Regions from separate parts of the Homo sapiens genome. Here region 2 is linked to region 1. Evidence: fine-mapped QTL for protein levels in blood plasma. Region 1 holds a variant in brackets. A gene starts in the other region. All regions are shown on their forward strands. Region 1 overlaps CCDST (cervical cancer associated DHX9 suppressive transcript). Region 2 holds the start of KLK8 (kallikrein related peptidase 8).

Evidence for each region. A credible set is the group of variants that fine-mapping cannot tell apart. PIP is the chance, under the fine-mapping model, that this variant and not a neighbour inherited with it causes the effect. The UK Biobank Pharma Proteomics Project read protein levels with antibody pairs (Olink). The fine-mapping took linkage between variants from a reference panel, not from the people measured, so its PIPs are less certain.
Region 2: it holds the start of KLK8, and the variant in region 1 is the best candidate, but not a certain one, in a credible set for the plasma level of the KLK8 protein (UK Biobank, PIP 0.83).

The regions. Positions count from the first base shown.
Region 1 is chr1:152,198,088-152,214,961 of GRCh38, forward strand. All of the region lies in intron 1 of CCDST (cervical cancer associated DHX9 suppressive transcript), which reads left to right. HRNR (hornerin) reads right to left here. Exons shown (of 3, transcript NM_001009931.3): 3 at 13,989-16,874. The coding sequence ends at 14,989. Among named protein-coding and RNA genes, the nearest start is that of CCDST, 17 kb to the left of the region's middle. The variant C/T (reference allele first, on the strand shown) is at 8,589.
Region 2 is chr19:50,989,749-51,002,266 of GRCh38, forward strand. It overlaps KLK8 (kallikrein related peptidase 8), which reads right to left and starts at 11,856. Exons shown (of 6, transcript NM_007196.4): 1 at 11,784-11,856; 2 at 11,350-11,427; 3 at 10,676-10,835; 4 at 10,248-10,510; 5 at 8,003-8,136; 6 at 6,260-6,466. The coding sequence starts at 11,419. The coding sequence ends at 6,311. RefSeq lists a silencer at 711-911 and an enhancer at 4,465-4,759.

The DNA of each region.
Region 1 (16,874 bases):
ATACTACTTTTCAGCAGTTCCAAGTACAGGTTACACATTCTCCCTCTGTTGTGTTGTGGCTAGAGGTGCGTTGAACATGATTTTGTTGCTCACCACTGTGGCTTCTTTCAATAAACACTCCTTCATTGATGCACATACATTCCACCCTCTTTCCATCCTTACTTTTTCCTTGACTGATCTCCTTCCCCTATAACCACATAATCTTCAGTGAAGACTTTGGCAACTGTCTATTTCTTTCCACCCTAGCTATTATAATCATTCTGGAAAACTTCAACAGTCATGTTGGTGATGCATCTGGATCCATCATTTCTTACACTCTATTGATCTCTACCTCCACTCTACCTCAGCCAGCTATTCAAATGACCACCCCCTGGACCTTGTCATCAACCATAACTGCTCCACCTCTGAAGCTGTGAACCCTGAAATGTCACTCATTGATCACACAGAATGGCCTTTTAGCTCTCCTACTCTTAAGTTCCCACTAAGCCTGTTCTTAAAAAATAGTCTTTTTATTTTTATCTTGAGTAATTGCATGGCTACCATCTAGAGCTGACAGTAGTAAACTTTTTGTTGTATTTGCTTCAGGTCTTATTAAAATGAATAAAACATTGCAGGTAAATTTAAGTCTCCTGTGTTTCTCACCCCCAAGTTCTAATCTTTTTTTTTTCTTATCAGAAGTACCACCAAAATTAATTTGGTAAATATGTGTGATGTATGTGTATAAATATATGTGTATATATATGTATAAAATATGTAACTACATTTTAAAATTTATGTAATGTAGTGTACATATTAATAGTTTGCAACTTGATTTTCACTCAAAGTTATTATGTTTTTAAAATCTATGTGTATATATAATAGTTATTTTCTTCTAGGTGCACTGTAGCTTTCCAATATAAGAATATAGTATACTTTATCCATTTTCCAAATTCACTATTACAAACAATGCTGTATTAAACACCCTTGTAAATGTCTTCCCAAACAAAATAGGTCAGTGTAGTGCCATGGCTAAGGTAGCACCACAGCTAGACTATATGGCACCTTTGTGTGAATAAGAAAGACTTCCTCTTTTTATGGACCTAGTCCTCTGAGCTCACAGCTTGGCAAATAGAAAGTGCCTGGGGCAAAGATAAAAGTACTGAGGTGGATGTAGCTTTTAACTAGGTATGCATGGATTATTAACTGGGACATGGATTGGATTTCTGTGCCAACTTGCTTCCTCTTGGCACCACTGGGACAGTGAATGAATTGCATAGCCACATGTGGTGCCCTGGGTTAAGAACAAAAACTTTAGAGTCTCATTGCTTGGTTTCAGTAGCAGCTATGTGACCATAGCAAATTACTTAACCTCTGTGCCTCATCAGTAAAATGGTGATCTGGAATGGTCTATCTCCTAGGGTAATTGAGAGAGTTATACATAGTAGTGCTTAGTGCATAGTATGTTTTATATAACTATTAGATATTATTATCACAAATATAGATAAACCTTGGAGATATTGCAGGTTCAGTTCCAGACTACTGCATTAGAGAGAATATTGCAATAAAGTGAGTTACATGAATTGTTTGGTTTCCCAGTGTGTATAAATGTGTGTTTACACTGTAGAGTAGTCTCTATTGAGTGCTCAATAGCATTATGTCTAAAAAAGTATACATTCCTTCATTGAAAATACTTCAATGCTAAAAAATGCTAATGAACCTTCAGCAAGTTGTAATCTTTTTTCTGGTGAAGGGTCTTGCCTTGATGTTGATGGCTGCTGGCTGATGAGGGTGGTGGTTGCTGAAGGTTAGGGTGGCTGTGGCAATTTCTTAAAGGAAGACAACAGTGAAGGTTCCTGTGTTGACTGACTCTTCCTTTCACGAGAGATTTCTCTCTAACATGCAGTGCTGTTTGATACAGTTTTACCCACAGTATAATTTCTTTCAAAATTGGTCAATCCTCTCAAACCCTGCCACTGCTTTATCAACTAAGTTTATGGAATATCATAACAGTGTTCATAGCATCTTCACCAGGTGTAGATTCCATCTCAAGAAATCACTTTCTTTGCTCATTCATAACCAACTTCTCATCTGTTTAAGTTTTATCATGAGATTGTAGCAATTAAGTCTTTAGGCTCTACTTTTTAAAAAAAAATTTTTAATCAATTTGTTTTTATTGTTTTTTATTTGACTTTTAAGTTCTGGGGTATGTGTCCATGATGTGCAGTTTGTTACCTAGGTAAATATGTCAGGCTTTACTTCTAATTCTAGTTCTCTTGCTATTTCCACCACATCTGCAGTTACTTCTTCCACTGAAGTCTTGAATCTCTCAAAGTAATCTATTAGGGTTAGAATCAGCTTCTTTCAGACCCCTGTTAATATTGATATTTTGACTTCTCTGTGAATCGTGGATGTTCTTAATGACTTCTAGAATGGATAATCCTTTCCAGAAGATTTTCAATTTTCCTTACTCAGATCCATCAGAGGAATCACTATTTATGGCAGCTGTAATCTTCCAAAATGTATTTCTTAAATAAGAAGACTTGAAAATTGAAATCACTCCTTGATCCATGGGCTGCAGAATGGATGTTGTGTTAGCAGGCACAGGAAAAACATCGTTGTACATTTTTATCCGAGCTGTTGGATGACCAGGTGCATTGTCAATGAGCAGTAATATTTTGAAAGGAATCTCTTTTTTCTGAGTAGTAGGTCTCAACAGGGGGCTTAAATAGTTAGTAAACCATGCTGTAAACAGATGTGCCATCATCCAGGCTTTGCTGTTCCATTTATACAGCACAGAGTAGATTTAGCATGATTCTTAAGGGCCCTAGGATTTTCAGAATGGTAAATGAGCATCGGCTTCAACTTAAAGTCACCAACTGCATTAGTCCCTTACAAGAGAGTCAGCCTGTCCTTTGAAGCTTTGAAGCCAGAGAATTGACATCTCTGTAGCTATAAAAGTCTTAGGTGACATCTTCCTCTGATAGAATGCTGTGTTATCTACATTGAAAATCTGTTGTTTAGTGTAGCCACCTTCATCAATTATCTTAGCTAGATCTACTGGATAACTTGCTGCAGCTTCTCCATCAGCATGTGCTGCTTCACCCTGCACTTTTATATTCTGGAGATGGCTTATTTCCTTAAACCTCATGAACCAACCTCCGCTAGCTTCAAACGTTTCTTCTGTAACTTCCTTACCTCTCTCAGCTTTCATAGAATTGAAGAGAGTTAGGGCCTTACTCTAGATTAGGCTTTGGTTTAAGATAATGGTGTGGCAGGTTTGATCTATCTAGATCACTAAAACTTTCTCCAAGTCAGTGGTAAAGCTGTTTTGCTTTCTTATCATTCATGTGTTCACAGGAGTAGCACTTTTAATTTTCTTTAAGAATTTTTCATTTGCATTCACAAACTTGGCTAACTGGCACAAAAGGCCTAGCTTTTGGCCTCTCTCTGCTTTTGACATGCTTTTCTCACTAAGTTTAATCTTATTTATTTATTTATTTATTTATTTTTGAGATGGAGTCTCGCTCTGTCGCCCAGGCTGGAGTGCAGTGGCATGATCTCGGCTCACTGCAACCTCTGCCTCCCAGGTTCAATCAATTCTCCTGTGTCAGCCTCCCGAGTAGCTGGGACTACAGGTGCCTGCCACCACGCCTGGTAAATTTTTGTATTTTTAGTAGAGACAGGGTTTCACCATATTGATTAGGCTGGTCTTGAACTCCTGACCTCAGGTGATCTGCCTGCCTTGGCCTCCCAAAGTGCTGGGATTACAGGTGTGAGCCACCGTGCCCAGCTCTTATTTTTTATTTAAAGTGAGAGACATGTGGCTGTGCCTGGTGGCTCATGCCTGTAATCCCAGCACTTTGGGAGGTCGAGATAGGTGGATCACTTGAGGCCAGGAGTTCGAGACTAGCCTAGGTAACATAATGATATCCCATTTCTACAAAAAATTTAAAAATTAGAAGGGCATGGTTGTCTGTACCTGTAATCCCAGTACTTGGGAGGCTGAGGCATAAGAATCGCTTGAACCCGGGAGGCAGAGGTTGCAGTGAGCCGAGATCTTGCCACTGCACTCTATCGTGGGCAATAGAGTGATACTCTGTCTCAAATAAATAAATAAATAAATAAATAAATAAATAAATAAATAAAATAAAGTGAGAGACATGTGACTCTTCCATTCACTGAAACACTTAGAAGCCATTGTCTGGTTACTAACTGGCGTAATTTCAATATTGTATCTTAGGGAATAGATAGGCCTGACTAGAGGGAGAAAGAAAGGGGAGCAGCTGATCACTGGAGCAGTAAGAACACTCATTTATCGATTAAACTCTCTGTTTCATATAGGAAAGGTTTGTGGTGCCCTCAACAATTACAAGTGTAACAGCAAAGATCACTTATTACAGATCACCATAGCAGATATAATAATAGTGAAAAAGTTTGAAATATTGTGAGAATTACCACAATGTGACACAGAAACATGAAGGGAGCACATGCTGTTGGAAAAATGGTGCCGATGGACTTGCCAGACAGGGTTGCCTCAAACCTTCAATTTGTACAACACACAGTCTGTGAAGCACAATAAAGTGGAGCACAATAAAATGAAGTATGTCTGCATGCAAACTCCTCTGAGGTATACGAGTAGGAGTAGAACTGCTGGTAGACAGGGTATGCACATTTCAAAGAAATCTGTTCCTTATCCTGTCTCTATTTTTTCAGTCTGCCAGTCCCCTTCCTGCCTTCTTTCATATCTATCTAGGATTCCATCATCACACTTTTGAAGTTGTGGGCCTCAATCATGTTATAATGCATTGTGATTGTTGTCAGCAATTGGTAAGCATCTCAAAAAAGAACAAACCAAGTCACCCAGATCACTCCCCAAAGTGGGCAGAAGAGAAAAGGATTGGGTTAAAGGTTGCAATAACAGTGACCCCCTCCTGCCAGGCATGATGAATCTTCCTATCTAGACAAACTTGCTTTAATCTCCTTTTGTTTCCCACTCTACTTCCTTTGAGAGATGTCAGAGATAATGATGGTGAGTGGGCTAAATTCACTTTCTTCCTCTCACTTCCTTCTCCACTTGGCTCTTAGCTTCACCTCCACTACTCCCCATGCACACATGCCTTCAGATATAATATTTACAGCTACTTATTGCCTTTTATTTGCTGTGCTCTCACTGCTAATTATCCTACATTATGTTTCATTCTCTTTGGTTTTGTTGCCAAGAAATATCCCTATATCCTTACTCCCTGCCATCCCTTGCTCTTAGAAATCTGGTTTTCCTTTAATGATGCTGTTTTCCTTTTTCTGTGAAGTGGAGCCTGGCTGTTCTGGTGAAGTCACTGTGGGCTAGTAGATTGAGAATGAGTTCATAGTCACACTTGAGTTCAAATCTGAACTACATCATAGGTGAGCTGTGTGTCCTTGGATTTATAACCTCAATTTGCATACTGAGGAGAAGTTTAAGGATCTCTGCATCAAAGAGTTATTGTGAAGGCAAAAAAGGGGTAAGTAATGAGACATTGGTACATAGCTCCTAGTATATTCCATATTGTTAGTTTTATTTTACCTGAAAAGTTGCTACTGCTAACAAGGCCCATCTTTCCTACAATAATGGAGTCGAGAGTGTAAGGTCTTGCCTAGGGGAAATTTGGCTATAAAATTATCCGTCCCTTCACACACATATAGTTTGGGCCAAGGAGGGGGCCTGTAAGGGAGCAATTCCCAACCTTTTTGGCAGCAGGGACTGGTTTCATGGAAGTCAACTATTCCATGGATGGGAGAACAGTGGGGGTGGGATGGTTTAGGGATGAAACTGTTCCATCTTGGATTATCAGGCATTAGATTCTCATAAGGCACATGCAACCTAGATCCCTCCTGGTGTAGTTCACAATAGGGTTCGTGTTCCTATGAGAATCTAATGCAGCTGCTGATCTGACAGGAGGCGAAGTTCAGGCAGTAATGCACGGTGGGCTGCCACTCACCTACTGCTGTGTGGCCTGGTTACTAACAGGCCACAGACTAGTACTAGTCTGTAGCCCAGGGGTTGGGGACCCCTGCTGTAAGGGTTTCTGGTTTTTCCTCCCATACCTATAACCTTCTCTACAGACCATTATGTGTCCTTGGACCCTTCATTTTTCCTTGTACCTGCCCTGCCAGTCTCAAACCTGGGATTAACCTAATTCCATTTTTTTTTTTTTTTGGCTTCTTCTGCCAGGCTGTTAAGATGGCAAATATCACATACATGGTGCCTTAGCTTATTTCTACACATTTATTATATTAACCTTGCCCACACTCTGAATATTGCCTGGCAATCCCTTTCATCATACCTAGGTGGTTTCTTTTACCAGACCCCTCAGCTGGAATTTTCAGACCTTTCCCTTTTCAGATCTTTCTAAGCCTCCTGCTTCACTCCCTCCCCATCTTCCTTTTAGTAGATCACTTTACTTCCTTCTTTGTTAAGATTGGGAAGTGATTCAAAAAGAATGAGGAGTCAGGCTACCAAGATTACAGTTAGTCTATTCATGTGGATGAAAAAATTTCCTCCATATCATTATCATACTTGTAGGTGTCAGTGTTGCAAAAGTCAGGGATGAAGTTGTTTACATTAGAGAGTTAGCAATTTATAGGAAAGGGCTCAAGGCTTCATTGATTTGGAAGACTAGGTAGAATCTTCTTCCTCATTTTTAGCTTATCTCAGGGTTGTAAAGATTTTTGTTTTTCCTCTCCAATGGTGCGACTTTATATGCTTAGTCATAATGGTGGTTGGGCAAGGAGTCAGTTTTGTTGTCTCCATAGGGGCCAACGGATGTGAATTCTCCTAACTTTGTTTCTAAAAGGAATCAACTAGGTCATGGACCACTAACATACAGATTCCTGGGTCCCATCTACTAGAAATTTGGATTTAGTTGATCTGGGATAGAGGCCATCAGTTTGCTTTTTAAATAATTACCATAGGTGATTCTGATGCAGCTCATCCTAGGAACCTCTTTTAAAAACATGGAGGTAATTGTATTTTTGCTGAATTTTAATCTCCTTTTTGTTTCAAGAGTATATGAGGTATTCTTTTCCTTTCCAAGACTGATTTCTCTATGTGTATATTTGATTCAATTTCTGTCATTCCTTCTAGGTCCTTGATCCAACAACGATTCCTTTCTCTGTATCAACAGATTCTTACTTTCTATAAATCACCTTCCACTTGACTTAGAACTGTTATTCACATTCAGTAAATTTTTATTGCATGCTGCCTGTGTTTCCAGCATATATTTTAATTTCTTCCTTTATAAAGGATTTTTCTTTCTTCCTTGCCTACTCTCTTATTTCCTCTTTACTACAAACTTTTTAAAGAATCTTTTCACACTGATATTTAATAAGAATTATAACAACAAGTAGTAATAAAGATAGCCACTAATATTTATTAGATGATTACTGTGGACCAGACACTTTTCTAAGTACACTATATATATTAACTATGTAGCAGACAGTTCACAAATTAATTAAAAATATATATATTAGGATCTGTTTCTGGGCTATTTATTGTTATATTGATCTGTATTATCTACTCTTCTGCCAATATGCTATCTGGCAGAAGAGTATTTATAATAACTTTATAAAATGCATTTTATCTTCCATTACTTAGTGAAATTCCCTCTCTTTGGGTTCTAGAACACCATTTTCTCTGCCTCTCCTCCAACTTTGATTCATCTTTATCAGTGTCCTTCACTGACCTTTCTTCTCCGCCTCCTTCATGTGATTCTATTTAAAGCCCTTTACAGCCTGCCTCCAACTTGCTTTTCCAGCTGCAGTTCCTGATACTGGTTTTTCTACATGCTTCAGCCAAAGACATATACTCTTTGATCCCTGAGAACACTATTTCCTCAGTGTCTTTGCACATGGAGTTCACTTCTCTGCTTGTGAAGTCTATGAATATTGCATGGCTGATTTGTCACAATTTTAAGTCTTCAACATCTGGAGTGTTCTGGCAAGAATTTGTAGGTAAGGACAAACCAAGGTGGGTGGTGATGCTCAGGAGCCCTTTGTTTCTAGGGTAGAGCACACAGAGTCAGGGAGTCTGAGAGAACAGGAGGGGTAGAGGAAGAGGGCTGAGACAGGCTATTGAAGGAATTGGGTATCAGATACTTATCTTTCAAAAGATACCAGACTGTGTGTGATTGTTTATTATTAGTCCCTGGTGACCTACAAAGTAAGGCATGCATTAAGGAGGTCAAGTCAGAAAATGCCACCCTCTGGAATTGAAACTAATGAGAACTGTTAAATGTGATGAAATAAATAAAATGTGAAGAGATGAGTTATCTGCAGCAGGAGTCCACCCTTGGAAATTAAGTGCTGCTAATGAGCAGGGTGTTCCTCAAGTCTCTCTCAAGACATTAAGTTTGGTTGCATTGAAGCAGGAAAGGGGGAGTCTGAGGATGAGTACTAGTTGGTGTGTCTCCAGCAGTGTCCAGAAGAGTGGATTGCACCAGTCCTAGTTGTTTGACTGTAGTTGTTTAGAGAAAAATATTACTGAAGCACAAGACAGTGTTATGTTAGCAAACACATATGTTTTGGAGTTAGACAGATTTAGGTATAAAACCTGACTTTACTAATATAATATA[C/T]TTGACCTTTTAAAGTCTCAGTTTGCTCTTCAGTAAAATAACATTTATAACCACAGGGTTGCTATGAGAATGAAATTAAACAATAAATAAATATATGTCAAGTATATAGCACATAATGTAATGTTCCCAGTTCATAAGATGTTCAATAACAATGCTGCTTTTGTATTTTTCTATCCCTTTTAGGAAAAATTTTTGAATCATCAGATTACCATAGCACAACCTTGGAGAATAAAACTCTTTTGCTCTGAAGCTCATCTAATAACCTGATATCTCTCAAATGAATCTATCCAATGACAGGGAATACCCCATGTTAAACAGCTGATTCTTGTTCTGAATACGTTTATTATCTTGTAGTTAGTAAATAAATCAATTGGACCCTTAAGACTTTGCTTAGAGTGAATCTGTCTCCCAGAGCTTGATCACATTTGAATGTACAGACAAAAACTAACAAAAGTGAGATCCATCTGGGGATGAGGTATTGGGATTCTGTAAGATCCTGCCTGAAACAGCCCACCTCTTTCTCTTTTCTTATTTTAGCTGTAACATTATGGTTCTTAAGTTTCTAGAGTCATAACAAGGAAAAGAGAAACATTGTGAAAAACTTGGCTTAACTATATAACTAAGCATTTATTGGGAATTTGTTTGCTTTCTCTTATTAGAAAAATTTTCTTGCCCCTTACCCCTTGGAAGGCAAAGAATAAGGTTGGGGTGTTGCCCAGAAAAAGGGTCAGGGTTTGGTTCTCATTCTTATATACCCAGAAATGCACTCATATCAGTGCCCCAGAGTTGATCAGACTCAGGAAAACTGTTTCATTGTAACTGAACTCATCAGGGACTGAAGTATAAAAACCAGAGTGCCATTTTATTAATTTACAGTCAGAAATGCATTATCAGAAACACTGGGTATTTATATTAATCTTGCTGATGAATGCTTTCTCCTTTTGGGAAAATTATGGAAAGCCAAATTTTCTTTTTTTAAAAAATTTTATTATTATTATACTTTAAGTTTTAGGGTCCATGTGCACAACGTGCAGGTTTGTTACATATGTATACATGTGCCATGTTACTGTGCTGCATCCATTAACTCGTCATTTAGCATTAGGTATATCTCCTAATGCTATCCCTCCCCTCTACCCCCACCCCACAGCAGTCCCCAGTGTGTGATGTTCCCCTTCCTGTGTCCAAGTGTTCTCATTGTTCAATTCCCACCTATGAGTGAGAATATGCGGTGTTTGGTTTTTTGTCCTTGCAATAGTTTGCTGAGAATGATGGTTTCCAGCTTCATCCATGTCCCTACAAAGGACATGAACTCATCATTTTTTATGGCTGCATAGTATTCCATGGTGTATATGTGCCACATTTTCTTAATCCAGTCTATCATTGATGGACATTTGGGTTGGTTCCAAGTCTTTGCTATTGTAAATAGTGCCGCAGTAAACATAATGTGTATGTGTGTCTTTATAGCAGCATGATTTATAATCCTTTGGGTATATACCCAGTAATGGGATGGCTGGGTCAAATGGTATTTCTAGTTCTAGATCCCTGAGGAATCGCCACACTGACTTCCACAATGGTTGAACTAGTTTACAGTTCCACCAGCAGTGTAAAAGTGTTCCTATTTCTCCACATCCTCTCCAGCACCTGTTGTTTCCTGACTTTTTAATGATTGCCATTCTAACTGGTGTGAGATGGTATCTCATTGTGGTTTTGATTTGCATTTCTCTGATGGCCACTGATGATGAGCATTTTTTCATGTGTTTTTTGGCTGCATAAATGTCTTCTTTTGAGAAGTGTCTGTTCATATCCTTCACCCACTTTTTGATGGGGTTGTTTTTTTTTTTCTTGTAAATTTGTTTGAGTTCATTGTAGATTCTGGATATTAGCCCTTTGTCAGATGAGTAGGTTGCAAAAATTTTCTCCCATTCTGTAGGTTGCCTATTCACTCTGATGGTAGTTTCTTTTGCTGTGCAGAAGCTCTTTAGTTTAATTAGATCCCATTTGTCAATTTTGAGAAAGCCAAATTTTCTAGAAGGCCCCTTGGTGTGTTTGAAGTCTGTGGCAGAGGGTGTGTTGTGTGGTTCAGCTGATGAATATCATTAGGCACTCATGTGGTGAGACATTTATTTAAAAGACTAGGACATGCTGGACCAGATACACCAGTGGACTAGCTTGTCAGAACACTCTCCCTTGAGCAGTCCTTGATGGGCATTCTAACATTGTTCTTTGTGTTCTCCTTTTTCTTACAAAATAATTTAAGATTTACAAGTAAGTGTAGATTTACAAGTCAGTGAATGATATAATGAATACCATCTTCTTAAGAAAACTTTTGGTATTGTTTACTCGATCTCAGTTCCATTTTCTTCCATCCTTCCAGAGGTACACACTGTCTTGAATTTGCTGTTTATCATTCCCATAAAGATTTTTACATTTACCAAATATGTATTAACCACAAACAATATATGGTATTGTTATGTATATTGTAAACCTATATAAATGGTATCACACCATGTATACTTGTTTTGCAACCTTTTCACTTGGCATTACACTTTTGGAATTTGTCCATGTTGATATATACGTACCTGTAGCTCATGAATTTTAACTGCTATATAGCATTTTAGTGTGTGGGTATATTACAATTTATCCATTCTTCTATTGAACTTTTAGGTTGTTTGTAACATTTTGCTGTTACAGACTTGTCTGTGGTTGCCAGATTTCCTCTTAATTAGGTATCAGTTCAGACTCCTGCTGCTCAGTATCCTCCCGACACTGGATATTGCCAGACTTTAGTTTTTTTCTGATCCGATGGGTATGAAATGAATTTCATTGTGTTTTAATTATCTATTTCCCTGAGCATTGTTTTAAAAATGTCACTTTGCCATTCAGATTACCTTTGGTGAATTTTCTTTTTATAAGTTTTGCTGTTTCTTTTTAATTTTTAATTTTTATAAATTTTGGTGAATTTTCTAAGTTTTGCTGTTTTTTAAATTTTTAATTTTTATAAGTTATTTACATAATCCGGCTATTGATCATCTGTTGTTTATAGGCATTTCAAAAATGTTCTTGGACTCTGTGGTTTGTCCTTTTTACTTTTTGAGATTGTCTTTGGATTTACAGACATTTGTAATTTAATTATAGTAAAAGTCATGAGTCTTTCCTTGGTGGTTTGTATATTTCTTGTTTAAAGAATCTGCACTTATTTCAAAGTCATAAAGATATTCTCCTATATTTTCTTTAAAAATTTTTAAAAGTTTGGCTTATCACAGTTAGGTTTTTATTTACTTGGAAGTGATTTTTGTAAATGGTGTGAAATAGAGATAATTTTTTTCCTATGGAAAATTTATTACCTTGGCACCATTTATTGAAAGAGTTGCCTCTCTCCACTGATAAGCAAAACCACTGCTCTTGTATATCAAGTATGCATGGATCTGTTTCTGGAGTCACATTGCTCTGTATATCTGTTCCTACAACAATACTGCACTGTTTTAAATCATATAACTTTGTAATATATTTTGATATCTGATGAGATGAAACTCCTCCCCTTCTGTATCTTGGTGGCTCACATAATGCCAGCACTTTGGGAGGCCGAGGCGGGCAGATCACCTGAGGTCAGGAGTTCGAGACCAGCCTGGCCAACATGGTGAAACCCTGCCTACTAAAAATACAAACATTAGCTGGATGTGGTGCTGCCTGCCTGTAATCCCAGGAGACTGAGGCAGGGGAATCACTTGCACCCACGAGATGGAGGTTGCAGTGAGCCGATATTGTGCCACTGTACTCCAGCCTGGGCAACAGAGTGAGACTGTCTCAAAACAAAAAACAAAAAACAAAAAACAAAAAAAATTCGTGTGTCAAGTTGCACAGAAAGCCTTTAAACAATCAACTTTATTGAGATATAATTTCCACATAATATGTACGATTATGTAAGTTTTGACAAAAGTATATATATATGTAACTACCATTATAATCTACATATAGATTTATTCCATCACCCTAGAGTGTTCCTTTGTGACTCTTCCAGACAGTTCACAAGTTCTACTCCCAGCCCTAGTCAACCACTGATCTACTTTCTATTTTTATAGATTAGGTTTGTTTTAGTAAGTTTCATATAGATGGAATCATAAATATGTACTCTTTTGTGGATGGCTTCTTTTGATCAACGTGTTTTTGAGATTCATCTGTGTTACATGTATCAGTAGTTTATTCTTTTTTTCCTTGCTAAATAGAATTCCATTGTATAGCCATACCACAATTTGTTTATCCAGTCATCTGTTCGTGGACATTTGGATTGTTTCAAGTTTGGGGCTATTATTAAAGCTGCTATAAACATTCATGTAAAAATCTTCAATGTAGACATACGTTGTCATTTCGCTTGGGAGTGGAATTGCTAGGCCCTATAGTAAAGTACACAATCGTGTTGCTTAACAATGGGGGATATGTTGTGAAAAATGCACCCTTAGGCAAACATCAGAGAGTGTACTTACACAAATATAGATGGTATAGCCAATAAACAACTAGGCTATATGGTATAGATTATTGCTCCTAGGCTACAAACCTATACAGCATGTTACTGTACTGAGTACTGTAGGCAACTAACACAATGGTAAGTGTGCATCTAAATGTATCTAAACATAAAGAAGGTACAGTAAAAATATGGCATAAAAGATAAAAAAGGTACACTTGTATAGGGCACTTACCATGAATAGAGCATGTAGGACTAGAAGTTGCTGTAGGTGTCAGTCAGTGAGTGGTGAGTGAATGGGAAGGCCTAGGACATTACTGTATACTACTGTAGAGTGTGTAAACACTATACACTTGAATTACACTAAATTTATAAAAGAATTTCTTCCTCCAGTAAAAATTAACTTTAGCTTACTGTAAATTTTTAGGTTTATAGACTTTTACATTTTTAAACTTTTTGACTCTCTTAATTAACACCTAGCTTAAAGCACGAACACATTGTATAGCTGAACACAAATATTTTTTTCTTTACATCATTATTCTGTAGGCTTTTTTCTGTTTTAAATTTTTTTAAAAAACTTTTTTTGTTAAAAATTAAAACTAACACTAAAAAGTTTTTGTTAAACCAAGACAAATATCGCCTTCTACCTCCATATGTTGTCTCCCTCTAAGGGCTTCAGGGACAATAAAATGTATGGAGCTGACAGCTCCACATTATTGTGTGTGATTTTGGTGTCATATCAAAAAAATCATTGCCAATACCAGTGTGATGGAATTTTGATCATTTTAAAATGAAGTAGTTTGTCTTATTGAGTTTTAAGAATGCTTTATCTATTCTTCATTGTGAAAAATAGAATATTGGGAAATCGCTGTTTGGTTTGGTTTCTAGGATGACCATCTGTATGTAAGAAGTGAAATGAAGCACAGATGAGAAAAGTCTTAGTATTTAATCAACATTTATTTATTGTCAATTTTAATACAATCCGGTTGTTTGAATCCAAAGACTTGAAACAAATGTGTTACAGTCAAATTAAGGAACTATGTAGCAGTGACAGATACTCTTCCTTTTCATCTGGGCATGGATGATATTTTTTCAGGTGGAAACGTTATTGAACTACAGTAGTAGGTGGAAAGCATTGTATTTCCATGGAATAACTCCTCAATATATTTCCCAATATTGAGCAGCCTCTTAGAAATAGGGAGCAAGATCTTTCTGCTGAAAACAAGCTAAAGCCCACATTTGAATGTTTTTTTTTTTCCTGAAATGATAAATCCCTATTCTTTATGAAATAATGCTCTTGCTCACTGGCTTGGGAAAAGACCCTGATGCTACTTTTTTATGCCACTAATTAACTTACTGATTAAATATATACCCAAGAAAAAGGACTTGATGGTTTTGATAAGTAAAGACACTACCGCTGCTGCATCTTTGCTTTCAGAGCCTTCACCTTCTGCCACAATACCAAAAATTGGGACACACCAAACTTGGGGCACACTAAAAATTAGGGTACACTAATTGCTGTAAAACAAAGCTTTGTATCTAGGACTGGTAATGCATTTGTAATATTTTGCTTCTAAGAAATGTAAGGTTAGCTTTGGCACCATCTATAAATGAATGATGAGCTCTCAAAAAGACAACTCCAACTAAACCCAAAGCTCTTTAAAAGCTTTTCATTATTCCTCAAAGTTTAACCCTCATTCTAACAAGTTATTCCACTCAGTATTTTCTAACAAAGTAGCACAAATGCCTAACAGTCTTTGGAAGGAACCCCATAACAAGATATATGCTACAGTTTTAGGCTCTAAAGAAAGAGACAGAAATGCATTGATTCACTTTTAGAACGAATTTCATGATGGATTGCTTGTCTTTCATGATGAATTCATAGATGACTTTCCTATTTCTTAAATTGCTACTTGAGTAAATTGCATTTATGTTTATTATTCACTGATAAAAGTAGCACCTCTGCTCTTGGACATATTCATAGGGTGAAGTGCTACTAGGAAAACTGAGAAAATATGAGCCAGAACTTCCCCCATCATGGTTACTTCCTCCTTTGCAATAAGAATACCCATCTTGCCCTGAGCCACTTCCATGCTGACTATAACCAGAGGACTGTCCTGAGCCAGACCCATGTTGGCCGTAGCTGGAAGACTGCCCTGAACCAGACCCGTGTCGGCCGTGGCTAAGAGACTGGCCAGATCCAGCCCCATGTCGGCCATAGCCAGAAGACTGACTGGAGCCAGAGCCACGGTGGCCATAGCTGGAAGACTGGCCTGTGCTAGATCCCTCCTGGTCAAAGGTTGATGACTGTCCTGATGTAGAACCATGCTGTCCTTGGCTACAGAAGTGCCCTGAGCCACTACCATGCTGACTGTAAGCAGAGGAATGTCCTGAGCCAGACTCATGTTGACCAAAGACAGAAGAGTGACCCAAGCGAGACTCATATGGGCCACGGCTGGAAGAACGACCTGAGCCAGACCCATGTTGGCCGTGGCTGGAGGAGTGCCCCAAACCGGACCCATGTCGGCCGCGGCTAGGGGACTGGCCAGATCCAGACCCTTGTCGGCCGTGGCCCGAAGACTGACGGGAGCCAGACCCATGCTGACCATAGTGGGAAGACGAACCTGAGCTAGATCCGTGTCGTTCACCCCTAGATGACTGTCCTGATCTAGAGCCGTGTTGTCCGTAGCCAGAGGAGTGACCTGAGCCAGACCCATGCTGACTGTAACTAGAGGACTGCCCTGAGCTAGACTCGTGGTGACCAAAGCCAGAAGACTCGCCTAAGCCAGACCCATGTTGGCCACTGCTGGAAGACCGACCGGAGCCAGACCCATGTCGGCCGTAGCTGGGAGACTGCCTTGACCCAGACCCACGCTGGCCGTGGCCTGGAGACTGGCCAGATCCAGAGCCCTGTCGGCCATAGCCAGAAGACTGACTTGAGCCAGAGCCATGCTGACCGTGGCTGGAAGACTGACCTGAGCTAGCTCCATGTTGGCCACAGCTCGATGACTGTCCTGATGTAGAACCATGTTGCCCATGGGTAGAGGAATGACCTGAGCTAGATCCATGTTGACCGTAGCCAGAGGACTGTCCTGAGCGAGACTCTCGGTGACCTAAGCCAGAAGAGTGACCGGAGCCAGACTCATATGGGCCACGGCTGGAAGACCACCCTGAGCCAGACCCATATGGGCTGTAGCTGGAAGACTGCCCAGAACCAGACCCATGTCGGCCACGGCTAGGGCTAGGAGACTGGCCAGATCCAGACCCATGTTGGCCGTGGCCCAAAGACTGACGGGAGCCAGACCCATGCTGACCATAGCTGGAAGATGAACCTGAGCTAGATCCGTGTCGTTCACCCCTAGATGACTGTCCTGACCTAGAGCCGTGTTGTTCGTAGCTGGAGGAGTGACCTGAGCCAGATCCATGCTGAGTGTAACCAGAGGACTGCCATGAGCTAGACTCGTGGTGACCAAATCCAGAAGACTGACCTGAGCCAGACCCATGTCGGCCACTGCTGGAAGACCAACCGGAGCCAGACCCATGTTGGCCGTAGCTGGAAGAGTGCCCGGAACCGGACCCATGTCGGCCGCGACTAGGAGACTGGCCAGATCCAGAGCCCTGTTGGCCATAGCTAGAAGACTGACTTGAGCCAGAGCCATGCTGACCGTGGCTGGAAGACTGACCTGTGCTAGATCCCTCCTGGTCAAAGGTTGATGACTGTCCTGATGTAGAACCATGCTGTCCTTGGCTACAGAAGTGCCCTGAGCCACTACCATGCTGACTGTAAGCAGAGGAATGTCCTGAGCCAGACTCATGTTGACCAAAGA
Region 2 (12,518 bases), not on the chromosome of region 1:
ATCTATTGTTTTTTTGACTCTTTAGTAAGCCCCAGTCTTAACCCCAAACCTTAATCTGTACCCAATCCTGAACCTCAAATTCTGCTTTATCCTTGATGAACCCCAATTTGTATCTCAACCAATAACCTAAATCTTGACTGAGTTCTTGACTCCAAATATCAACTCAGGCTAGGATCCAGACCTCAATCAAACTTAACCCTCCTGACCCTTGACCTTAACCCTGAACCATTAGCCATAAGCCAAACTCAACCTTGACCTGAGCAGTGAATGTCACCATAGCCTGAGTATCAAGCCTGCCACGGGATAATTCAGACATTAGTCTCCATTCCCATCATATTCTAGGAAGCCCACATTCATATCCTCCCCCATGAACCCATTCCCTCACATCCAACACCAATTCTAACACTCTCACCCCATCCCACCCCTATTCTCATCCTCAACCCAATTGCTACCTAAAATCCCATTCTCATTTCCATCCCCAATTCTTTTCCCAGTTCCATTTTTATTTCTCCAGCTCACCACACAACTTTGACTCTTCATTTTACAAAAACTCTAAAATAAAGTCTGCCAACGAATATCTTGCTAACATTGATGCTATACTAACTCAACTCAAGCCGAGTCCCAAAATCTTCTGAGACATTTACTGTCATCGAATCCAAAATCAGATCCCCGAACTTGGACATCTAGCCCTGCCCATTCCACAGCAGCAATCTGGTCGTGAAGGGTGTCAACATTCCTGACCTGGGCTCCCAAATCAAGGAGAAGCAGACTCCAGCCCAGTTGACCTCACAGCTCCATGATTCAGCAATCTGTATCTTTCCTTCCTGGCTTCTCAAAGACAGAAATGGTAGCAAGACTTCCAGTGTATTATCTACTCCCTGCATCTTCATCCTTAGATTCTCTCCTCCCTCAGTCCTCTGCCTCCTTAGTATCTGTTAGAAAGAGGAAGGAGCCAGGCTACTCTAGAGCCCTGTTATTCACTCCTAAGTCACCAAAACGTCTATCCTCTGCTTTTCATCATCTATCATTCTGTAAATTATATTCCTAATTATTTAACCTGATTTTGTTGCCAAACACTGGTCATCACAAGCAGAGGAAATGTGTGTGGGGTTCTTTTTTTTTTTCCAGCACCCCGCCCAGACCGGAGAACACAGGAGGTACTTAAATAAATACTAGTCTGCAAACTTCTGGCATCCACAGGTCCACAGGCCTTAGATTCAGTCCTGCCTTGATCCCTGAGCTGTTCCACCATGCAGTGTGACAGAAAGAACTAGAAAGAACTTGGACTTTCAACCCAGCTTTGAATCCTGGTTGCCCACCCTGTGACTTCGGGTAAGTGACTTCATTTTTCTGAGTCAGACTTTGCCCCTCCCCAAAGTGGAGGAGAGCAAAACCTATTTACCGAGGCAAATGAGAGGATTAAATAAAATTATGAATGGAAAATTGATGGGCACATAACAGCCAGTGAATTAACATGAGTTCCCTCAGCCCATCACCCACGGAATGAAGAAGCAGCTCCCATTTTCCCCCCTACATTTAGTGTGGTGTGTCTGTATTCCTCACATTGGTCCAGGTGAGGATTGTCATCCCCATTTTACCTTTATTTTTTGCCGCCTGCCCCATCATCCCCATTTTATAGATGAGAAAATGGAGGTTTAAAAAAGGCTAGATCACTTGAGCAAAGTCACAGAGCTGAGGAGTCAGAAGTGTCAGAATTCAGCCAGGCGTGGTGGCTAAAGCCTGTAATCCCAACACTTTGGGAGGCCGAAGTGGATGGATCACTTGAGGTCAGGAGTTCGAGACCAGCCTGGCAAACATGGTGAAACCCCATCTCTACTAAAAATACAAAAAATTAGTCGGATGTGGTGGCATGTGCCTATACTCCCAGCTACTCAGGAGGCTGAGACAGGAGAATCACTTAAGCCAGTAAGCAGAGGTTGCAGTGAGCCGAGGTTGCACCACTGCACTCCAGCCTGGGTGACAGGGCAAGACTCCATCTCAGGAAAAAAAAAAAAAAAAAAGCCAGAATTTGAACATTGGGATTCAAAGGCCTATGGTATCACTACTGCACAAATCCATACTCTGAGAAGGAAATTTCCTTGTTACATCCACATGTACCCTCTGAGTCTCATTTGGTTCAAAACAGACTTGGATCGCCCTCAGCCTATTAATGATGCATACCCCCATGTCAGAGAGAGGCCCATATCCAGGCCCCCTGTGCCCTTTGCATTTAGTCCTGGCACCTGTTGCTAAGTGTCATCCAGACACCCAGCCCCATACCTCCATCGTCCTCAGACCTATGTCCTGAACCTTTGTTAAATGACTCATCTTCCACCTTATGATCACACCTGAGAACTGGCATCTGATAATCTTGCCAGCTATGCCTTTCCCTGAGGGATTCTGAACACTGTGACCCTCGTACCTCCTGACTCAGCCCATGGGTTCTGATGGCCCATTGTTTCATACTTCCTGGATTCTCTTCCTCCTTATTTCTTTCTTTCTTTCTTTTTTTTTTTTTTTTTTTTTTTTTTTTTTTTTTGAGACAGAGTCTCACTCTGTCACCCAGGCTGGAGTTCAGTGGTGCGACCTCAGCTCACTGCAACCTCCACCTTCCGGCAGAACCCCATTTCTTTTGGGGGAGATGCTGCCTTATTTCTTATAGTTCTGGTGAAACTGTCAATCGTAGTTCTCCAACTCCACCCACCCACTGAGGCGGAGAAATGACCCAGGCCAAGTCAACAAGATCAGTGTTTTCTCTCTGGCAACAATGATAGATTCAAGGGGTGGGCCCAGTTCAAACTGGACCAATTAGAGTTCCTCCCTGGGATTAATATCAAGATGCCAGGAGAAAGGAGATTTTTGTTTCTGTTAGTAGCTGCTATGTTCCCTCCATGCCCCTCCTTAGTACCTAAGATTGAGTAAATCAATCCCCAAGTCTTTTCAGGCTTATGTTCCACTGGAGACATTAAAGTATCTCCTGGACCAGCCTAGGCAACATGGTAGAGTCCTAGCTCTACTGAAAAAAAAAAAAAAATGGCTGGGCGTGGTGGCACATGCCTGTGGTCCCAGCTACTCAGGAGGCTGAGGTGGGAGGATGGCTGAAACCCAGGAGGTAGAAACTGCCTTAAGCATTGTTTGTGCAATGCTCACTGTACTGTAACCTGGGTGACAGAGTAAGACCTTGTCTCAAAAAGGAAAAAAATCTCCTTGGCATTGGATGATACTAAGAAAGTATCAACTGTGTAAGGTGTGATAATGTAAGTTGGTTATGTTTAAAACGAGTCTCTTTTGGAACAAGGATTGGCAAATTTTTAAAATAAAGGGCCAGAGAGTAAATATTTTAGCTTATGTGGACCAAGAGAGAAAAATGGAAGATATTATGTAGATATTTAATAGCAGGAAAGAAAATAAAATTTCACAATTTTTAATTGATGAAATTCAAAATGTAGTAATGATAATTTAGTACAAATTTTTTGTTGCTATTCCTTATCAAGCTCACGCCTGTAATCCCAGCACTTTTGGAGGTGGAGGCAGGCAGATCACTTGAGGTCGGGAGTTCAAGACCAGCCTGACCAACATAGAGAAACCTTGTCTCTACTGAAAATACAAAAAATTTTAGCCGGGCGTGATGGTGCATGCTTGTAATCCCAGCTACTCAGGAGACTGAAGCAGGAGAATTGCTTGAGCCAGGGAGGCGGAGGTTGCGGTGAGCCGAGATCACGCCATTGCACTCCAGCCTGGGCAACAAGAGCGAAACTCCATCTCAAAAAAAAAAAAAAAAAAAAAAAATTTAGCTCAGGAGATTTGGTCCAACAGCTGTAATTTGCCATCCCCTGTTTTAAAAATGCATAATAAAATATTTAAGAATGAGATGTTGTGGTGACTGAGATTGCTTCAAAATATTCTGGCATTAGGGAAGTGTGTGGTGGGAGTATAGGTGAAACAATAATTGGTTTTGCATTAACTTTTTTTTTGAGATAGGGTCTCACTCTGTTACCCAGGCTGGAGTGCAGTGGTACAATCATAGCTCATTGCAGTCTCAACCTCTCAGGCTCAAGTGATCCTCCCACCTCAGCCTCCTGAGTAGCTGGGACCACAGACGCATGCCACCATGCCCAGCTAATTTTTTAATCTTTTGTAGAGACCAGTCTCCCTATGTTGCCCAGACTGGTCTTGAATGCCTGGGCTCAAGCAATCCTCGTGCCTCGGCCTTTCAAAGTGCTGGGGTTACAGGCGTGAGCCACTGCACCGGACCTTGCATTCATTATCGAAGTTGGATGGTGGTATATGAAGACACATTATGTTATTCTATTTTGCATGTGTTTGAAATTTTCCATAATAAAAATTATAAAACAATTCTTTGAGTTGAGATGTCCCCCCCAGAAATGCATCCCTGGCATCAGAAGTTTAATGCCATGCTTGAAAGACTTCCTCAGGATTTCTGGTATGGGGGAACTGTCATAAAGCATCAGGGAGATTGATGAATGCAAGGTATCTCACACACCCACGCCCCTTGTGGAGAATTGCCTTCCCATAGCACTAAGTGGCCATGTTTCATATCACATGACTCCAAGTAGCCACTGATTGGCTAAGATTTGGTCACCTGACTGGGATGCCATCAAATGATTGGCCATTCAGTGACCAATGATGTGGCTGAAGAAGAAAAGGTGAGCTAGATGAATCAGATTCTCTTTCATGAGACTATTTTCTAAAGATCCTAGTGAAGGAGGAGGCGGGGTTTAACTCTGGACTAGATTGAAGACAGCTGGAACAGGGAAAAGGCACCAAAAGCACATCTCCATAAGACGTGCACACCAGCACCATGACAGTTTGCCACTGCCATGACAACACCCAAAATTTATCAGCCCTTTTCTAGAAATTTCTGAATAACCCACCCCTTAATTTGCATGTAATTGAAAATGGGACTAAATATGACTACAGAACTGGCCCTGAGCTGCTACTTTGTGCTCAATGCCTATGGGGTAGCCCTGCTCTGCAAAGAGCAGTACCTCTGCTACTGTGCAGTACTGTTTCAAGAAAAGTCACTAACACCACTGGGTTGCCCTTGAATTATTTCCTGGACAAAGCCAGGAACCCTCCCTGGCTAAGCTCCAGTTTTGGGCCCACCTGGCCTGCACCACTAGAAGAGTGACTATATCCTTGTAATAACTACCCCCTCCACACTCATCTTTCCCTAAAACAAGTTATGTTAAGCCTTTGCTTTAATGAAAACTTTCCCAAATGCCCTTTGCGTCACACTTCAATTTGGACACACCACTCATTTCCTTCTACCACAGCAGACACCACCAGATGGCTCTAGGCTGTGAGAAAGAGTTCTATCTGGATTTTTGGGAGCTCTCAAGATTTTTGACCCGAGTGGTGGTTTCATGGTTGTTCATTTGTGAATATTTAAGCTGTTCATATATTTTCTGCACTCTTTTCTATGCATATCTCCCAATGTTTTCCCTTTTCTTCTTTTTTTCTTTTTTTTTAAATAAAAATAGAGATGAGGTCTTACATTGTTGCCCAGGCTGGTCTTGAACTCCTGGGCTCAAGTGATCCTCCCACCTCAGCCTGTGAAAGTGCTGGAATTACAAGCATGAGCCACCATACCTGGCACAATTATTATTATTAATTTATTTGTTTATTTATTTTGAGACCGAGTCTTGCTCTTGTCACCCAGGCTGGAGTACAATGGCATGATCCCTGGCTCACTGCAACCTCCGCCTCCTGGGTTCAAGCGATTCTTCTGCCTCAGCCTCCTGAGTAGCTGAGTTTACAGATGCCCACCACCACACCCTGCTAATTTTTGTATTTTTAGTAGAGACGGGGTTTTGCCATGTTGGCCAGGCTGGTCTCGAACTCCTAACCGCAGGTGATCCATCCGCTTCGGCCTCCCAAAGTGCTGAAATTACAGGCTTGAGCCACCGCACCTGGCCAATTATTTTTTAAAGGGGGAAAATTTTATCTCCAAAGCTTGTAAATGCTTTGCTCAGGAAAACTAAACACAAACTCTTTCAAAACTGTCTTTCACATACCAGCCCACTGAATGTTTGAAGACCTTTGTATGTATTTTCTCCCCTGAAATAAAGCTCTTACCCAAGTTCTTCCAGAAAACGAGGGATCACTTTAGGCAGTGGTGATGGCCAAAGTGACCATGAGAACTTGGTTTCTGCACATCCCCACCTAGTCTGCCAGCAGGAACAATCCCGGATCCCCATCCAGCCCTCCCCACAGGGCCAAAACAGAGACAGGCAAGGAACCAGAGAGTTGTGAGTTTATTAAGGGAGATCTAGTGCTTATCCTAGAATCAGCCCTTGCTGCCTATGATCTTCTTGATCCAGTCCAGGTAGCGGCAGATGTTGGTATAGACGCCAGGTTTGTCGGACCTCCCACAGGGGTCTGAGCCCCAGGATGTGATGCCCTGGAGTGCACCATCACACACCAGGGGGCCTCCAGAATCGCCCTAGACAGGGAGAATGAGAACAGCCTTGCATCTGAGATGTCCACAACGTCCCTTTTCCTGCTGTCCCAGCGTTTTACCAGTTCTTTGGCATGATTGGTCCCCTGTAGCCAATGGGGGTAAAAGCATTGTCCCCTGAGACCAGTCAGGACAGGGCTTGGGGCTTCCATGTACAGACAGACATGGTGTCTAAGGGTAGTGGTCAAAACACTGACAGAAGAGGGGAAAGAATGAAATCCCAGACAGGCTTGGTGGCTCACACCTGCAATCCCGGCACTTTGGGAGGCCGAGGCGGTAGATCACTTGAAGTCAGGCGTTCCAGACCAGCCTGGCCAACATGGTGAATCCCTGTCTCTACTAAAAATACAAAAACTAGCTGGGTGTGGTGGTGCACACCTGTAATCACAGCTACTCGGGAGGCTGAGGTGGGAGAATTGCTTGAACTGGGAGGCAGAGGCTGCAGTGAGCCAAGATTGTGCCACTGCATTCCAGCTTGGGGGACAGAGCGAGACCCTGTCTCAAAAAAAAAAAAAAAAGAGTTCTCGAGGGTCCAATCCAGGGAGAAGACAGTAGGGATTACTTGGAGAGGACTGAGCTGAAGTTTCCTCTGTTCCTGGCCAATAGTGAAGGCATCATTGATTGCAGTTGCCAAACATAGGAGAAAGGATCAAGATTCTTATGGACACACACACACACACACACACACACACACACACACACACACACACCATATCCCCAAGAGACCATGGCTGAAATATTTGTGGAAGAGACCACTATCTCTACAGAACAATCCAGAGACTGGCTTTCATGGCAGTATCGCTGATGGAAACGACTCCATTTTTGGCCAATGGGGAAGAAAGCATTGTATTTAGGGACCAGTCATTGGCAAAGGTGGTGGGGCTTCCAGGAAGTGGACAAAGCCAGGGGAAAGTGCTAGGAACAACGAAGTTGCAGTTAGAAGAGAGAGTTATATCTATGACAAATCCCAAGAGAAAGGGATTGGAGCTCATTGAGGAAGCACTGAAGTCAATGGCACCATTTACTCCAGCCAACTGGGAAGACACCATTGTCTCCCAAGGAACCAATCACAGGAGAAGGGAACCAGCCTTGGGATTCTAGCCCGGTCTCAAAGAAAAGTGGCTGACCACCGGGCCGGTGGTAAAGTCGGCACAAATTCCACGATGTAATGCTGGGAACCAGAGAGCAGGCAACTCGTCTAAACTCTAGCCTCAGACTCTCTCCTTGCTGGACATCTACCCCACCCTCTATAGCCCCCAACTCTGCATCCCATCCTGTAGTTAAGCGTTCGAAAGAAAACAGCAGCAGCAATTCAATGCTCCTAATCCCTATGCAGTGTGACTTTCAGAGAGAGAGTTTGGCTTCTCTGAACCTGGCTCCCAATCCGTAGAGATAGGGGTGAACACTCCGGGTGCCAAGTCTTTGGGGTCACTCCCTTACCACCCCCACCCCCATCCAAGCCTTGAACCTCGAGAGGGCAATGAGGGATGTGTGAGGAGAAGGATTTCAGAAATTGCTCACCTGGCACGTGTCAGCCCCTTTGCTGCTGCCTGCACAGACCATGCCATCTGTGATCTGCCCCGGGTAAGCATCCTCACACTTCTTCTGGGGAAAGATTTTTACTTCTGCACAGTTGAGAGTGTCAGGAAAATTCTCTGAGGGGGAAGAGGTTGTAAGGTTCCCTGAGAGAGCAGCCCTTTGCCTCCATCCCTGTCTGGATCTAACCCCCTTTCTTTCCAGGATGTAATGGGGGAGTTTTCCAGCTGCATGGGGGAATTTTCTGACACTGTGCACAGGGGACATCACTTCTCACCACATTAAACGAAGCTGTACTTGTTGCTATTGGGCTTTCTCCATCTAGAGAGGGGCCCTTGGATCTCACGTGTTTTTTCTTACCCTGAGCCATTTTCAAATCAAGGGGCTGGGGGTTACTTGGAGGTGCCCCTTTATGATACCTCTGACCCTCTCTTTCCAGTCTTCCTGCCCTCAGACAACCGGGTCCTCAATCTGTGCTAAATCCTGCTCCTTCCAAGTGTCACCTCCTCCTGGAAGCCTTCCCTGACCACTCGAATTAAAAAATACCATCCCTCCATTACTCCCTATCCTTTTACGCTCCACAATATTTCCTTACAGCACTTTGCCTAATGTTTTATTTTATGTGTATTTGTTTATTGTCTATTTCTCCCACCTAGCTTGCAACTCCATAACGACAAGGACTTTGTACAGTTTGCTCATGGCTGTATATCCAGCGCCTGCAACAGCACCTCAGGCATACTAGGTGCTCAGTAAATAAGAGTTGAATTAATGATTGAAGGTGGAATTGATCTTTTTTATTAACCTCTTTTGAGGAATAGACTTCTCCAAAGCCTCTTTGAGGGGGAAAAACTTCCATCTGGCATCTCTACGTGCCAAAAGCAATATGCTCATAATCTCATTTAATCCTCACAACAGCGCTTTGAAGGAGAGATGCATTCATTCATTTCATTATTTATTCATCAGGTCATCCATTCAACAAATATTTATTGAGCATCTACCATGTAGCAGGCACCATTCTGAGCACTAGGAGAACACAATGAAGAAAACTGATGTAACCTGAACCCTCACGTAGCTAAAAAATCTATTGGTTAATGATTCCCATTTTGCAGATAAGGAAAGTGAGGCTCAGAGATGGAAAGGAATTTGCCCAGGGAGAAAGGGCAGAGCCATAGTTTGAACTGATCTACTTGATTTGCGAGCACGTGTGTTTCCACAGCCGCAAACTGTCTCATCCAAAGCATTCAGAGCAGGAGTGAGGCAGGCAGGGACCTGAATGCTGACTTTGCCACTTCCTGGAGAAGCTCCTTGACTCTCTTAGGTGAGTCCCAATGTTTTCACTGTGAAGGAAGGCGAGGGGCTCTCTGGATTCTGGAGTCCCAAAGGGACAGCTTCATTGGAGGTCCAGATTTTGGGGTCCAGAGTCAAGAGGGAGCTAGGACTGCTGGGTCCTGGGAGAAGAAGGGCCTAGACTCCCGGGTCTGAGGGAAGAGGTGACCAGGGCCCAGGTTTCCTGGGTTCAAGAAGGAGAAAAAGGCCAGGGGCGGTGGCTCATGCTTGTAATCCCAGCACTTTGGTAGGCCGAGGCGGGCAGATCACTTGAGGTCAGGAGTTCGAGACCAGCCTGGTCAACATGGCGAAACCCTGTCTCTACAACAAATACAAAAATTAGCTCGCGTGGTGGCGGGTGCCTGTAATCCCAGCTACTCGGGAGGCTGAGGTTCGAGAATCGCTTAAACCCAGGAGGCAGAGATTGTAGTGAGCTGAGATTGTGCCACTGCACTCCAGCCTGGGCGATTGAGTGAAACTGTGTCCCCCTGCAAAAAAAAAAAAAAAAAAAAAAAAAAAAAAAAAAAAAAAAAGGAGGGAGGTGGGGGAGAAGGTGCTTAGGAGCCTGTTTTCCTGGGCCTCTGAGAAGTCCAAATATCCCAAGTGTGTTAAGATTATATAAAATCCTATACAACCAAAGGTCCCATAGGGTAGTGCTCTCCGCCATACAGGATGGGCTTTTCTGGCCCTGCTTAACAATCTGCTAGTTGGTTCTTTCTCTCACCACTCTTGTTAGTAGTCAGATCTTCGAGGCTTCTCATATGACTCCTGCTTGTGAATCTCAACATCATGATCACTTTCCCTTCTTTGTCTCCCTCTGGGGGACCAAGCTTTGCCAATAGCTTGGGTTCCACTGGGCCAACCAGCTCCTCCTCTCCCTCCCATTAGTGGACAAGCCCACTACCTCGGGGACTGGTGACAGTGCCCCAGCCTGAGACGGTGCACTTCTGGCCAGGCTGGGTGCAATGATCTGCCAGGCTGATGGGCTTCACTTTGGACCCCAGGGATGCCTGGTCACGCAGTTGAAGAAGCATCAGATCATGGTTGTGGTCCTCCACATCGCTGCTGTTGTAGCAGGGGTGTGGGATGGACTGAACCACAGGTATTTCTTGCTCTGGGCCATCTTTATTCTGTAGGCTGTGGTCTCCCAGGCGTACTGTGTATTTCCTGTAATGGTGGGGATAGTTTGGGACCCAGGCAGGGGTATTGCCCCCAGCCCCCTCCTCCTTCAGACCCAGGAGTCCAGTCCTCAGCTCTCTCCTTCCTGAGTCGAAACCCCAGCCCCCTCTTTCCTTAAGCCCCAGCTGACCTCTGCCCCCATCATCCACTCACGGTTTTTTACAGTGGGCAGCTGTAAGGACCCAGTTGCCACCTACAAGGACACCGCCACAGAGTAGTTGCTGGCCCTGGAACAAGGCCGCCTGCCAAGGCTGCGAATGGGGTTGGCACTCATGACCCCCCAGCACCTTGTCCTCCTGTGCCCTGGAGTGTCCTGCAGCAGGAGGGAGAGGGTTGGATCGCCACCCTCTGGGGCAGTGCGAGGGCTGGGAAGGCCACTGTGGGTTCAAATGGACACACGGCAAGTTCTCCGCATACAACTTAGTGAGGAGGTCCAGGCTTCCACACGCTGCCACACGGGGACACTCATTTCAGTCCATGTGTCATCATACAAGAGTCACACACCCAAGAATGCCCCCACATGCTTCCACATGAGTCTACAGGCCCCGAGTACTCCCAGGTGAATCTATGCCCCCAAGCAAGCAGCCCCCAAAGGCTGTAGCTATTCAGACAATTTACAGCATCACGGAACCTACTCCTACCTGCTGCTACCTGTTTCTTGCCTCTGTCCACCCTGAGGAAAGCCCACAGAGGCTCCTGCACCGTATCGCACTCTTCACATCCGTGCACACGCACCCACATAACCCCCGCGGCATTCCCACAGACTCCCCAGCGCCACTGCTGCCTTCAGATCCCTCCCCTCCGGAGGCCTCCGCAACCCTCCTCACCTGCCCAGGCTCCCCCCAGCAAGAGCAGGAACATCCACGTCTTGGCCGCACGAGGTCGGGGGCGTCCCATGGTGAGGTCTGGGAAATGGAGAGGGCGGGGCCGGTAAACAGGAAGGAGGAGCCTGAGCTCCCAGTTCTGGATTTGGGCACTGGGGAGGCAGCCGAGAGTATCTGGGGCTGTTCTGGGCTTCTCTGGAGGAAGGAGGAGGCTGGGGGACTGGATTCCTACATTCCAAGGGAGGGGGGAGTCCTCGATGTCTGGGTCTGAGGGGACAGGGAGCTGGGAGCTGGGACTCCTAAATTAGGGAGAGGAGGAAGCCGGGGTCCAGACTGCTGGATCTCGACAGAGAAGGGCATCTGAGGCTGGGGTCCTGGAATCTGGAGAAGGAGGGTCCGGGGCCTGATGTCTGTATCTGAGTACCTCTGCACCTCACCTTCCAGAATCCAGGGGCGGGGTCACCTACTGATTCGGACCCAGTGGAGGAGGCCCCAGTACTTCAGTTCTCTGCCTGGTACACGATTCTGGAGCCTTTTAACTGGGAATCTCCACCTCCTGCTCCTCCTCCTTCTCCTCCTGCACTAGAGCCTGGGGAGCTTCTGGGAACTGGAACACTGGGTGTGAGTGAGAAGGGGCGGAGGGGATTGAACGTGAAATCTTGAGGGAGGAGGGGCTGGAATCTCAGACTCCTGAGGCTAGGGAGAGGAGGGACTCGGTGCTGAGACTCTACGATCTGAAACATAAAGGGCTGGGGGCCAAGATTTTAGTTCTGAGAGGGGAGGAGGCTGGGGGCCTGGATTCCTGGGTCTGAGGGAGGAGAGGCTGGGGGCCTGGACTCCTAAATCTAAGGGAGGAGGGACTGGGACCTGGGATTTAGGTCTGACCGAGGAGGGGCTGGGGGCCCAGACTCCTGGGTCTGAGGGAGGAGGGGGCTGCTAGGGGCCAGGACTCCTGGGTCTGAGGGAGGAGGGGCTAGGGGCCTGGATTCCTGGGTGTGAGGGAGGAGAGAGCTGGGGGCTGAATTCTAAGTACTTTTAAAAGGAGAAGCTTGGAACCTGATCTTTTGTGGGAGGAGGGGGCTGCTGCCAGTAACCGGGAACCGAAGAAAGGCAGGTCTTCTAGGGTCAGAAACCAGAGGGTGGATCAGGCCCCGCCCGCTGTCCCCTGAGAG